Regions from separate parts of the Homo sapiens genome. Here region 1 is linked to region 2. Evidence: fine-mapped expression QTL. Tissue or cell type: pancreatic islets. Region 2 holds a variant in brackets; the other region holds the start of a gene. All regions are shown on one strand. Distances are between the middles of the regions.

Evidence for each region. PIP is the estimated chance that this variant, and not a neighbour inherited with it, causes the effect.
Region 1: EFHD1 starts here. The variant in region 2 is fine-mapped to the expression of EFHD1 in pancreatic islets (PISA, PIP 0.95).

Annotation. Positions count from the first base shown.
Region 1 is chr2:232,632,481-232,634,980 of GRCh38, reverse strand. EFHD1 (EF-hand domain family member D1) reads right to left here and starts at 1,377. Exons shown (of 4, transcript NM_025202.4): 1 at 975-1,377. The coding sequence starts at 1,276. RefSeq lists silencers at 908-1,202, 1,280-1,339.
Region 2 is chr2:232,657,047-232,659,546 of GRCh38, reverse strand. All of the region lies in intron 1 of EFHD1 (EF-hand domain family member D1), which reads right to left. Among named protein-coding and RNA genes, the nearest start is that of EFHD1, 25 kb to the right of the region's middle. The variant AGGCT/T (reference allele first, on the strand shown) is at 1,154.

The DNA of each region.
Region 1 (2,500 bases), 25 kb after region 2:
TTAAATAGAACCTCCACGCGGAGGGCAAACACATTCCATGCGCTTTTAAAAACGCCCAAGCATGACCTGGCCGGCGGCCTCAGCTCCCCCAGGCATTTTTCCGGTCTCGGCTCAATTCTGGAAATATTAATAGCTCGGTTAAGAGCTTACCGGGTGCAAAATACTTTTCGGCCTTAAAAGGCAGGGACTGTTACTGCTCCCACTCTCCAGATGAGGAAACTGAGATCCCCGGAGGTTCCAGGCGACGAGGTGGACTAGTGGGTCTCTATCGCCTGCCTCTGGCTCAGTGTCTCCCCAGGTGAGCGGCTCCCCGCGCACTGGGGCTCACAGAGCAGGACCGCAACGAGCCCCCGCCGGACCGGTGCCAGCGGCCAAGTTCGGTTCCCACAACCGCCCCCCCTCCCCGCGCCCCCAGGAGGCTCCCGGGCCGCGCCTGCTCCAGGAAAGTCCTGAATCTCTTACAACGACTTTACCAAACTCCCCGTTCTCGGCCTCCGCTCATTCATCAGACCCCGCGCTGCAGCCAAGGATTAACTTTCCCCTTTTGTTTTAAAAGATAAAAGGCCAACAGGGGCTAATTTTTCCCTTGGGGGGATACAGTGAAAGCTGGCAGGTGAGGCGCGGCGACGGCTCCCTTTCCTAGAAGTTGCTTTCGGAGCAAATCTCCGGACTGGCGGGCGGAGGGGGCGGGACCAGTGGTCGGGGTTGGGGGACCTGGAACTCGGGCCCGGCAGCCGCCGAGAACTTTTGGGCTCCGTCCCGGAGAGCTCCTGCTCCTGGTGTCCCCCCTCTTCGGCCCCGTCCCCCACCGCGCCGAGATAGACCCGAGCACGCAAGATCTGGCTGCGTTGGGCCAAATGCTACCTGCACCCCGGGACCCCTCCCCACACAAACAGGGCCCGGGACTTCGGACCAGAAAGCCCTCCCGCTCCCTCCCTGGTCCCGGGGGCGAAGGGCGCGCAGCGGGAGCTCACAGTTTGAACATGCTCTCCAGGTCCTTGATGAGGCGGCGGCTGAACTCCGGGAACTCCGTGTAGGGGTTGAAGACCCTGCAGCGCCGGGGCCGCGCAGCGCCCTCGTTGATGTCCAGCCGCCGGCTCAGCTGGGCGCTCAGCTCCGCGTCGGCGCTGGCCGTGGGCGCACGGGCGGGAGGCTCGGGCTCGGGCTTGGGCTCCGGGGCTGGGGCGCCGAGGGGAGCCAGCTGGGGGCCACTCTCCTCGGCCTCCTCGCGCCGCAGCCGGCGCTCCAGCTTGCACGCCAGCTCCTCACTGGCCATGGCGGCGGATCGCAGGACGCGGGAACGCGGGGACGCGGGACGGGACGCAGGGAGCTGGCGGGCGGCGCGCTCCTCGCAGGCTCGAGGCTCTACAACACTCCGCCGAGGCGGCGGGGACCCGGCGGTTGGGAGGGTCTGAGGACGGACTGGCGGGCGGGGCGGTCGGGGCGGAGCTGCGGCTTTAAGGAGGCGCCAGGGCTCAGCGACTGCCAGCCTGGTGGGAGGAGGCCGCCGGTGTCTGGGTGTCTGCGCGTCCCGGAGACCCCGACCTGCTTCCTCTCCCCGCGGCTCCGGGCGGGAGGCTGACCGTCCCCCCGGGACCAGGCAGGGACCCTCGGATCAACTCCGACCTTGCTGCCCCTGTCAGCTCCGGGGAAAACCGTAGCGGGAAAAAGCGTCTCGACCGTTCAGACGGTGCCTTTCTTGTCCCCCAGAAGTAACCCGACTGGAAGCGCTCGCGGCCCGGGACAGGCTGGGTGGGGGAGGCGAGCGCCCCCGAGCGACACCCACGCGTCCCCCGCGTCTGGGAGTGGTGCCCACCCTCCCCGGGGTCAGGGAGTGGGAGGCGCCCGCCCGGAGCGTGGGGCGGGGGAGCTGCTTTTCAAACACTCATTGGAACGAAATGTTTCCAAAACATGCTAAAAATACTAAAAACAAATAAGCAAACAAAAAAGAGAGAGAGCAAACGAGCAGAAAAAACTCCCGTTTTCCCTAGAGGCAGGAAAGCAGCGTAGCTTCAGGGACTCGGGTTTTTTTGCGTGAAACGCACAAGAAAAGAGAAGAAACCTGGCGCGGAGACTCACATCCGCAATCCCAACACTTAGGTGTTGGTGGCAGGATCTTTTGAGCCCAGGAGTTCGAGACCAGACTGGGCAACATAGTTAGACTGTCTCTACAAAAACTTTTAAAAAATCAGCCAGGCATAGTGGCGCTCGTCTGTAGTCCCAGCTACTCAGGAGGCTGAAGTAGGAGGATGGCTTGAGCCCGGGAGGTCGAGGCTGCAACGAGCCATGGTCAGGCCACTGCACTCCAGCCTGGGCGACAGAGTGAGACCCTGGCTCTAAAAATAAACGAAGAAGAAGGAGGGAGAGGGGGAGGAAAAAAGAAAGGAAAGAAGGAAAAGAAGCTTGAAAATTAAATCAGCATTTTTAACAAGAGGGTAAAAACAAATACAGTCGTCATTCTCCCCAAGGAAGGCTGATGCCGCTGTTACATCAGCCAGGC
Region 2 (2,500 bases):
GGCTGGAGAGGAGGCCCAGGAATCCCTGACAGGCTCCCTTCCAGCCACAGTGGCCAACTTGTGCCATTCCTCTCACCCAGCCACCCCCTCCCTGCCCTCCTCTATGGTCCTCCTGTGCCCAGGAGCTCAGGGAGCCACCTGCTTCCCCCACAGCTCTCCAATAGCACCCACTGTCCATCCTTCTCCGGGACTTAGCATTCACCACCTTCCTCTGGTGGGTGCTTCTATTTTTATTTCTTGTGTTTTTTTTTTTCTCAGTGCCCTCACTTTAACAGTATGCTGGCTACTTCTTACTCAAGCAGCTCTGTGCTCAGTGCAGCCTCCTTGCTGGCAGAGCTACATTGCAAAGCACTAAAGGACACAGACAAGATCGCTGGGTGGCTGTTGGTGAGCTTTGAGGAACCGTGAAGGATGAGACAGGTGTTCCAGATCTGGAAACAAGCAAGGTGCTTCTGGGTTTCCCAGAAGTGGGCAGAGTATGTGAATCACAGATGCACCAGCCCAGGATCTAGTGTTGCCAGAGGACGGTTTGTGAGCACTTTAAGAAGGGAAGCAACAATTTCCATGGGTTCACTGAAAATGACTTGAGGATGGACCTCACTTCCCTGTTTTCTAAGTTTTTTTTAAAAAACAGCTTTACTGAGATATAATTAACATACCATAAAATTCACTGTACAGTGCATTAATTTTTAGTATATTCAGGTTGTGCCAACATCATTACCATGTAATTCCAGAACGTTTGCCTCACCCTAAAAAGAAACTGATACCCATTAGCAGTCATTCCCCACTCTCCCCTTGCCACCCCTATCCCCCAGCAACTACTAGCCTTTCTGTCTGTATGGATTTGCCTCTTGTGGACATTTTGTAGCCCAACAATATTCCACTGTATCAATATACCACACTTCGTTTCTTCACTCATCAGGTGATGGACATTTTGTTGTTTCCACCTTTTGGCTCTTATGAATAGTGTTGCTTTGAACGTTCATATACAAGTGTTTGGACATATATTTCCATTTTTTCGTGTATATACCCAAGATTGGATGCTGGGTCACATGCTTATTTAGTTGTGAAACGTTACTGTCAAGTTGATCTAACAGAAAACCACAGCTGACCTGATGTTACCACTCAGGGTGAGCAACGCCCTCTAGCAGGC[AGGCT/T]CTTATGGGGAAGAGAAGTATGGATACAATTAGGCGGACTGGCTGTTAGTTAAAGCCACCTGGAAAGGGTGCTGACTCTCAGATTCGCTGGTGACACAAAGTTGGGGCAGAATCTAGGCCCAAAAGATCTCAGCAAGCTGGTGTGATGTCCACAGATAAAATATAGCAAAGAAAAATGCAAGGTCCTGGCTGGGTGCAGTGGCTCATGCCTATAATCCCAGCACTTTGTGAGGCCGAGGTGGGTGGATCATCTGAGGTCAGGAGTTCGAGACCAGCCTGACCAACATGGTGAAACCCCGTCTCTACTAAAAATACAAAAAAATTAGCCAGGCATGGTGGCGCATGCCTGTAATCTCAGCTACTCAGGAGGCTGAGGCAGAAGAATCTGTTGAACCTGGGAGGCAGAGGTTGCAGTGAGCCGAGATCGCACCACTGCACTCCAGCCTGAGTGACAGAGTGAAACTCAGTCTCAAAAAAAAAAAAAAAAAAAGAAAAGAAAGAAAAATGCAAGGTCCTAAACAAAGAATTACCATAGGATCCAATGGAGTCTGGACACTAGTATTCTTTTTTTTTTTTTGAGATGGAGTTTCATTCTTGTTGCCCAGGCTGGAGTGCAGTGGTGCGATCTCAGCTCACTGCAACCTCCACCTCCCGGGTTCAAGTGATTCTCCTGCCTCAGGCCTCCCGAGTAGCTGGGATTACAGGCGCCCACCACCATGGCCGGCTAATTTTTTGTATTTTTAGTAGAGACAGGGTTTCATCATGTTGGCCAGGTGGGTCTCGAACTCCTGACCTCAGGTGATCCGCCTGCCTCGGTCTCCCAAAATGCAGGGATTACAGGCGTGAGCCACCATGCCTGGCTGACACTAGTATTCTTAGCAGCATTATTCACAGTCACCAAAAGGTAGAAACAACTCAAATGCCCATTGACAAAATGTGATCTATACAAACAATGGAATTTCATTCAGCAATGAAAGGGAAGTGAACTCTGACCCATGCTCACAGGCTACAACATGGGTGAACCTTGAAGACATTGTGCCAAGTGAAATAAGCCAGTCGCAAAAAGGGCACCTCATTGTATGAATTCACTTATCAGGTCCCTAGAGTAGTCAAAATCATCGAGACAGAAGTAGAATGGTGACTGTCAAGGGCTGGGGAGGTGAATGGGGAGTTAGTGTTGAATGGGGACAGAGTTTCAGTTTAGGAGGGTGAAGACATTCTGGAAATGGATGACAGTGATGGTTGCATAATAATGTCAATGTTGTTGCCACTGAACTCTATACTTAAAAATGGTTAAAAATGGTGAATTTTGCTGGGTGCAGTCAGGCTTGCCTGTTATCCCA